Regions from separate parts of the Homo sapiens genome. Here region 1 is linked to region 2. Evidence: fine-mapped expression QTL. A gene starts in region 2. The other region holds a variant in brackets. All regions are shown on one strand. Distances are from middle to middle.

Region 1 (4,373 bases), 73 kb after region 2:
AGCCAACTAAGGCAGCTTTAGTGGGATGGTGTTGAAGACAGCTACATCTGACATCCTGAGACTGACCGTGGAGTATATGAAAAGTGTTTTGAAGCCTGAGTAACATAGGGAGACCCCATCTCTACATCCCATAATTTAAAAATTAGCTGGGCATAGTGGTGCGCACCTGTTGTCCCAGCTACTTGGGAGGCTGAGGTAGGAGGATCACTTGAGCCTGGGAAATCAAGGCTACAGTGAGCCATTATTGCACTACTGCACTCCAGCCTGGGCAATGGAGACCCTATCTCAAAAAAAAAAAAACAAAAACAAAAACAGTGCTTTGAGAAGTTCTCTATGTGGTACCACGCAAGTTCAGGGGAGTCACCATGGCACATGCCACAGAAACCACTGCTCCCAGCATGCTCTGTTCCTCTTGTGAGAGGACATCTCTGATTGATTGATTGAGACAGGGTCTTACTTTTTTGCCCAGCTTGGTCTTAAACTCCTGGCTTCAAGTGATCTTCCTGCCTCTGCCTCCCAAAGTGCTGGAATTAGAGGCATGAACTACCATACCAGGCTGGACTTCTCTTTGTGTGCAGGATCGGTGTCCCTCAGGACTTTGGGAATGTAATCAAATCAAGGGATGCTTTGATTTATCTAGCTCTTTAGTCTGCAAAGTGCTTTCATTTCCATTGCCTCTCAGTAACCCTTATAGGAGCAATGGGAAATTGGTAGGCTATTATTTTACCCTGTTTCCTGATAAGGAAACCAAGGGTGAGCAAGTGATGGAACAGGGCCTGGCACCCAGCATTCCTCCTTCCTAATTTCCCATCTTACCAAAGTTGGTGACCACTGTGTGGCCTCTCCTCCTCCCCTTCCTGTCCCAGTCTTAGGACTTCAGCCCAGCCCCAAGTGTCTGCACTTCTCCTACCAGGCTTTTCAGGTTGTTTTTGTTGCTAAGTTGTCATGATGGATGACACAATTCCTGTCCCAGGACTCCACACACAGCTCCTCATATGTACCCCAAGACAAGGCAGGAGTAGCTGGGTCGTGAGTGACCCAGTGAAGGAGCATAAGTTCGGAGAACTCCTGTCCCTACTCAGTGCTTTGGGCCTTGGACACTGTGAGTCCAGAAGCGATCTTCCGCGGCCAGCCACTTTTGGAGAATGCTGCTGCTTTCCCTTTCATCTTCGCTTGGCTTCACAAAGAAAGAGAACCTAGGCTGGGCACTGTGGCTCATGCCTATAATCCCAGTACTCTGGGAGGCCAAGGTGGACAGATCACTTCAGTCCAGGAGTTCAAGACCAGCCTGGGCAACATAGCGAAACTGTATCTCTACTAAAAATACAAAAAAATTAGCTGGGTGTGGCGGTGGCATTGGGAGCAGGAGTATTGTTAGGATTAAGGGAGATGTTGTTGGTAAAGCACCCAGCACAGTGTCTGTCACAAAGTAAGGGCTCTGTGGAACATGGCGGCTCTCACAATTCGAGTGTAAATTACCCTCTGAGATTTTACCTCAGACATTTAGCATAATGGTAAGGGAGCAATGCAGCTTTGGGGTGAAAATCTGGCTTCCCTCACGTGCTCTTCCAACCTACCCCACGACCGTGGAGGTTAGGCAGGAGCCAGTCCCACTCAGCTTGTGGTCTGGAGCTTCCTGGCCTGCCAGGGCAGGTTGGGAATCCCCCCATGAGTTCCTCGCTGAGTCATCTGGAGCAGGGCTGTGATCTGAGGGCCTGACCTTCCCTTTCCTTGGTCTGTAAAGATAAGCAGAAGTAAGAGCAAAGGTGGGCATCCCGAAAGATTCCACTCAAGGCTTGCAACCAGAGTGCTGCCCGGGGCCTCTGTCCTCCTGGGTGGTGGTAGTCACTTGGGGAAGGAGTCTGAGTTTGCTTAATAATTACCACCACCCTCCTCTGTGGGTTTTTTGTGGGTTTTTTGTGTTTTTTTGGTGGGTTTTTTTTTTTTTTTTGAGTCAGGGTCTCCCTCTCTCACCCAGGCTGGAGTGCAGTGGCACAATTATGGCTCACTGCAGCCTTGAACTCCTGGGCTCAAGCAATCTTCCACCTCAGCCTCCTGAGTAGCTACGACTACAGACATGCAGCACTATGCCTGGCTAATTTTTAAAACAATTTTGTAGAGACAGGGTCTCACTCTCTTGCCCAGGCTGGTC[T/A]CAAACTCCTGGCCTCAAGCAATCCTCTGGCCTCTGCCTCCCAAAATGTTGGGATTATAGGCGTGAGCTACTGTGCCTGGCACCATGTAGACTTTCATCCTGAGCTTCCTGTTCTGCTTCTGAGTGACCCCCTCCATCCTCCCAGGATAGTCACAGTAATGCCATTTCACAGAGGAGCCTGTATGGTGGACGAGGCTTTCACCTACATCACCTCGTTTAATTCTGTGAGAGTATTTATCATCATAGTCCCCATTTTAAGAAGCAGAAACCAAGTCCCAGAGAGGCAAAGTGACTTGCCAAGCATCACACAGCTTGTGCCTCTGAGTCCACTGAGCTCCAAGCTCCTCAGGAGCAAGGCTGTGTATACCCAGCCTACTGGACAGCACTTGGTGGTGGAGTTGAGTGACAGAGGGAGAGATGAGCAGGGCCCGGATTCACTTTCCAGTGCCATCCCCTGCTTGACTTGGACTTTGGCCAGTTATTGTCTTTCTGAAGAACCTGAGTTTCCTTATTCACAAAAGGGAGTTGATAATTAGAGGATTTATCTCATGGGCTTGTCAGGATTAAATGAAATAATGTAAGTTAAGTGCTGAACACAGTGTCTGGTGCATAGCAAGCGTCTGTTGTTATAACAGACATTCAGTTAAGTTAATTGAATATTAGAATTGTAATGTTATAAAATGCCATCATCAAGCAGATCTGTGCTCAGCCCTGTGCTGGGCTTTGAGGAAGATCTAGAGCTGGTACCAGGCCAGAGAGGGAATGCTCTTTATCAAGTTCTTACTATGCTTTACCCACCTGATATCAAGGTAGAGGAGCATATTCCCTTTTCACTGCTGACAACACTTAATGAAATTCAGAGTGTCTGAGGTCACCAAGCTCATGAATCACTCAACACACACATTTGTTGGCCAGGCACGGTGGCTCACGCCTGTAATCCCTACACTTTGGGAGGCTGAGGTGGGTGGATCATGAGGTCAGGAGATCGAGACCATCCTGGCCAACATGGTGAAACCCCGTCTCTGCTAAAAAAAAAAAAAAAAAAAAAAAAAAAAAAAATTAGCTGGCCGTGGTGGCGCACACCTGTAGTCCCAGCTACTCAGGAGGCTGAGGCAGGAGAATAGCTTGAACCCGGGAGGCGGAGGTTGCAGTGAGTCGAGATTGCGCCACTGCACTCCAGCCTGGGCGACAGAGCAAGACTCCGTCTCAAAACAACAATAACAACACACACACACACACACACACACACACACACACACACACACACATTTATTGAGCACCAGCTAGGTATCAGGCTTGGGACACACTGCAGAGAATGAGGCCAAGAGAGCCCCTGCCCTCCAGGAACGCGCCTTCTCATGAAATGCTGCCTCTGCAGAACAGCCCTTAGGTGGAGAAGCTCCACCTGTCCCACTGGACTGCTCACATTCCCCAAACAAGCCATTCCCTCTCCTATTAACTAGCATTTGAACATACTGAGTGTTTTGCCTGGTGTGTTCTTTCCCCTTTCTCAGCCTAGCTACTTCCTGTCACCCTTCAAACCCCAATTCAAAAGTCAATTCCCCTTTAAAGCTTTCTCTAAACAGCCCGTCCTCACCCTGGGGTCTTTTTGCAGTCTCCTAGCCCCTTCTACATGCTCCTGTGATGGCACTTCTTCTCTGTGTGCTAGTTATTTACCTACCTGTTTGTTGATGCCAGATTGACCTCCTCAAGGGCAGGGACCACATTTTATTCATCTTTGTAGATTCAGGGCCTGGAACACAGGCTCTAGAAAGGTGTGCATGGAATATAATGAGGGCCTGATTGTGTTCTGTCCCTGGAGTAGTTAGGAGAGGCTTTGTAGAGATGAGAAGGAGTTTGGAATGATGCTTCCCAAGATGATGGCACCAAAATTGAATGGGGGTTGAAGGAAGATGGCTCAGGGGTAGGGGCCTATAGAGATGGGACTAGGGGAGAAAGGGATGTGCAGGGGAACAGGAGGGCCTTGAGAGCCAGGGCCTGAAGTTTCTTTGTTTTTTGTGTTGTTTTTGTTGTTGTTGTTGTTATTGTTCTTTGTTTTCTGTTTGTTTTGTTTGTTTTGAGAAAAGGTCTTGCCCTGTGACCCAGTGGCCCAGTCTAGGGTGCAGTGGCACAATCATGGTTCACTGCAGCTTCAAACTCCTGAGCTCAAGTGATCCTCCCACTTCAGTCTCCCGAGCAGCTGGGATGACAGGGCGTGTGC
Region 2 (4,384 bases):
TCATGCTACTCAGAACAGCATGCAATTTAAAACTTATGAACTGTTTATTTCTGGAATTTTCCATTTAATATTTTTTTGGACCTCGGTTGGCTGAAGGTAACTAAAACCTCAGGTAAGGGGAGACTACTATAGACCAATGGAACAGAACAGAGAATCTAGCTACGTGCAGTGGCTATTGCCTGTAAGCCCAGCACTTTGGGAGGCTGAGGCAGGCAGTTCCCTTGAGCCCAGGAGTTCAAGACCAGCGTGGGCAACATGGTGAAACCCTGTCTCTACAAAAAAAAAAAAAAAAAAAAAAAAAATTAGCTGGGCATGGTGACACACCCCTGTGGTCTCAGCTACTTTGGAGGCTGAGGTGGGAGAATCAGTTGACCCTGGAGGTTGCAATGAGCTGAGAAGGCACCATTGCATTCCAGCCTGGGCAACAGAGAGAGACCCTGTCTCAAAAATAAATGCATAAATAATTTTTTAATGCTTAAACTTTTACTTTTCTTATTTAGGTCTTTAATCTATATGGAATTCATATTTTGTATATGATGTGTATGTAATAGGGGTCTAATTTCTTCTCCTAATGGTTAATTCAATTTCTTAGCACAATTTACCAAACAGTCCATGCTACTGCCTCCTTGTATCTCCACAAACACAATGTTTCCTCTGATGTACACCATCTTTAGATGTGTGGGTCAGTTTCTGGCCTATTTCATGTTCCATTTGTCTGTCTTTAGGCTGATATCGGGGGCTGTCTTATATACCCGTCTCACACTTCTTCAGGAGCAACTTGGTCATCCCATATCAGTGTTCCTACAGGTGTTCACTGTAAAATTCTTTCAATTTTTCTGGAGAAAAAAGAGTGTTGTGGCTCATCTGGCCCAGGTTGGAGTGCAGTGGCACCATCTCAGGTCACTGCAAGCTCCGCCTCCCGGGTTCACGCCATTCTGCTGCCTCAGCCTCCCGAGTAGCTGGGACTACAGGCGCCTCCCAACATGCCCGGCTATTTTTTTGCATTTTTAGTAGAGACGGGGTTTCACCTTGTTAGCCACGATGGTTTCGATCTGCTAACCTCATGATCCGCCTGCCTCAGCCTCCCAAAGTGCTGGGATTACAGGCGTGACCCACCGCGCCCTGCCCACCATACAATTTTTAAAGGCTCAGGTTTCAGACTGAGCCAGCTCCCAGCAGCCCCAACCCTTGGAGAAACGGACAAGTTTTAGAACAGTAGTGGAACTTCCACATTCCAGTAGACATTTGAGTTATTTGCTGGGGGTGAGGCAGTGTTGATTGTACATGGTGCTTATTTATTTATTTATTTATTTAGAGACGGAGTTTCACTCTTGTCGCCCAGGCTGGATTCCAATGGCGCGATCTCGGCTCGCCGCAACCTCCGCCTCCCGGGTTCAAGCGATTCTCCTGCCTCAGCCTCCTGAGTAGCTGGAATTACAGGCATGCGCCACCACGCCCGGCTAATTTTGTATTTTTAGTAGAGACGGGGTTTCTCCATGTTGGTCAGGCGGGTCTCGAACTCCCGACCTCAGGTGATCCGCCCGCCTCGGCCTCCCAAAGTGCTGGGATTACAGGCGTGAGCCACCGCGCCCGGCCTATGGTGCCCATTTCACAGATGAGGGAAGTGACCCAGCCTCTCGGTCCCACTGAGGCACTGAGTCCCTGCCTGCTTCGTTTTGCCTTGCCCCCCAGCCCCTTTCCCCTGCCCCTCTATCTCCCCTGTCGGCTTCCCACGCCAGTCTCTGGTTCTCTGCCTCCTGCTGTTTAGTGGGGTCGAGACAGGGAGGACCGGGGAAGAGAGGGATGTGACTTGGCCCTGGCCACCCCGTGGGTCCACGGGGCTGCCGCAGAACAAGGGCCTGCCACCAGGCCCCTTAGACATCCCTTGCTCCTGCCCTTCTCAGGCTCTGATCGTGTCTCTGCTCCCCCAGGTCGCCCTTTCCAACTATTTTCCTGTCTGCCCCGCTGACGCGTCCGCTGCCGAAGCACCTCCTCTCTCTGACTTTCCGCCTTCCCGCTGCGACCCCGGTTTTGCCCCTCTCCAGCTCCCTCAGCCGCGGGCACCTGAGCTCTCCGCGGCCACCAGGGGGCGCCCGCGGCCCAGTCTGGGCGCGAGAGCCGCCAAGCGCCCACTCCGTTCCTCCTGGTGCCCCGCCCCGTCCGGCCGCGGCCCCGCCCCTCCCGGCGCCCCGCCCCGTCCGGCAGCGGCCTCGCTCCCTCCGATCCCCCCCGCGCCCGGGACCCCTGGCCCCACTGTTGGGCCAGCTCGCCGGGTCCGGCCATGGGCCCCGCCGCTCGCCCCGCGCTGAGATCGCCGCCGCCGCCTCCGCCGCCGCCTCCGTCTCCGCTGCTGCTGCTGCTGCCCCTGCTGCCGCTGTGGCTGGGCCTGGCGGGGCCCGGGGCCGCGGCGGACGGCAGCGAGCCGGCGGCCGGGGCGGGGCGGGGCGGAGCCCGCGCCGTGCGGGTGGACGTGAGACTGCCGCGCCAGGACGCTCTGGTCCTGGAGGGCGTCAGGATCGGCTCCGAAGCCGACCCGGCGCCCCTGCTGGGCGGTCGTCTGCTGCTGGTGAGCGCTGCTGAGCCATCTGGCCGCATCACTAAACCCCTCTCTCAACCCTCCCTAGAGACCCCGCACCCTGAACCGACGTTCATCCTCCACCAAGCCTTGAGAGTCCAGCGCCCCTCCCCAGGCTCCCCAGGCCCCCAGCATTCCGGCTTCCCAAACCAGAGAGCCAGATGCTCTGGGAACTCTGGCCTTGGCATCCACTGTGATGACCCCGGCTCCCTCCCCCACCACACCCTACCTCCCTCTGCTCATGGCCCCTTGCCACACAGATGGACATCGTGGATGCCGAGCAGGAGGCACCAGTGGAAGGCTGGATTGCAGTGGCATACGTGGGCAAGGAGCAGGCGGCCCAGTTCCACCAGGAGAATAAGGGCAGTGGCCCGCAGGCCTATCCCAAGGCCCTGGTCCAGCAGGTGCAGGGGATGTCTATGGGGGAGGGGGCTGGAGGAAAGGATTCCAAGGCATCTGCTAGAGCCAGGCCCTCCTTAGATGGGCCCTTAAGAGCTTGCAGAGAAGCCCTAGGCCTGGTGGGTCAGGGCACCCCAGTTTGAAGAATGGAGTCAGTATGGCTTCGAAGCAGGGAGGTGAGAGGAGGCCAGAGAGAGGTTGAGAAGCTTGACCAGGCTCTGAGAGTATGGGATGGGGGAGCTGCTGCTGACGACCACTGCTGGGACTGCCCTGATAGGACCGGGGAAGGCACAGCGCATCTGGAAGGGAGGCAGGAGGAAGAAAGCAGTTTCCACCTTTGACCTCAAGGAGCTTATGGCAGTCTGTCCAGAGTTTTGCTCACTGCAGGGCCAGGAGCTAAGAGCAGCTAGGGCTGCAGGTGGTGAGACAGGTGTGCAGGCAGGGTATATGCTAGCCTCTCGCCTTCTATCCCTCTGCAGATGCGGCGGGCCCTCTTCCTGGGTGCCTCTGCCCTGCTTCTTCTCATCCTGAACCACAACGTGGTCCGAGAGGTAAATCGGACCAGGCCGTGAGGGTAAGCAAGCTGGGGAAAGGGGGACCCAGGCCTGCTGACCTCCTTGTCTCCCTGCAGCTGGACATATCCCAGCTTCTGCTCAGGCCAGTGATCGTCCTCCATTATTCCTCCAATGTCACCAAGCTGTTGGATGCATTGCTGCAGTGAGTTGGTATTTAGACTTCAAAGGACTGACCCTGGGTACAGAGAGCCCCTGGTTCTCCCATGGACTGAGGGGGCTTGGGACCAGGGCCTTACCTGTTAGCCTTTTTTTTTTTTTTTGAGATGGAGTATCACTCGTGTTGCCCAGGCTGGAGTGCAGTGGCGCAATCTCGGCTCACTGGAACCTCTGCCTTCCAGGTTCAAGTGATTCTCCTGCCTCAGTCTCCCAAGTAGCTAGGATCACAGTCATGTGCCACCACACCCAGCTAATTTTTTGTATTTTTAGTAGAGACAGGGTTTCACCATGTTGGCCAGGCTGGTCTTGAACACCTGACCTCAGTTCCACCTGCCTCGGCCTCCCAAAGTGCTGGGATTACAGGCAGGAGCCCCCGTTGCCACTGCTGCTGCTGCTGCCCCTGCTGCCACTGTGGCTGGGCCTGGCAGGGCCCGGCCTAACTGTTAACTTTTTTTTTTTTTTTTTTTTGAGATGGAGTTTCGCTCTGTCACCCAGGCTGGAGTGCAGTGGCGCGATCTCGGCTCTCTGCAAGCTCTGCCTCCCGGGTTCATGCCATTCTCCCACCTCAGCCTCCCAAGTAGCTGGGACTACAGGTGCCCACCACCATGCCCGGCTAATTTTTTTGTATTTTTAGTAGAGACGGGGTTTCACCATGTTAGCCAGGATGGTCTCGATCTGC

Which allele goes with the higher level. Positions count from the first base shown, and alleles are read on the strand shown. Sizes are in standard deviations (SD) of each study's normalised expression.
In carriers of allele T in region 1, the expression in lung of the gene that starts at base 2,184 in region 2 tends to be lower than with A alone (small effect, 0.20 SD a copy in GTEx).

Evidence for each region. PIP is the estimated chance that this variant, and not a neighbour inherited with it, causes the effect.
Region 1: its variant is the best candidate, but not a certain one, in a credible set for the expression of RNF215 in lung (GTEx, PIP 0.55).

The regions. Positions count from the first base shown.
Region 1 is chr22:30,312,389-30,316,761 of GRCh38, reverse strand. The region is part of intron 1 of TBC1D10A (TBC1 domain family member 10A); the gene reads left to right. Among named protein-coding and RNA genes, the nearest start is that of TBC1D10A, 12 kb to the left of the region's middle. RefSeq lists an enhancer at 1,865-1,924. The variant T/A (reference allele first, on the strand shown) is at 2,153.
Region 2 is chr22:30,385,211-30,389,594 of GRCh38, reverse strand. It overlaps RNF215 (ring finger protein 215), which reads left to right and starts at 2,184. Exons shown (of 9, transcript NM_001017981.2): 1 at 2,184-2,566; 2 at 2,836-2,979; 3 at 3,454-3,525; 4 at 3,606-3,691. The coding sequence starts at 2,282. RefSeq lists a silencer at 2,085-2,444.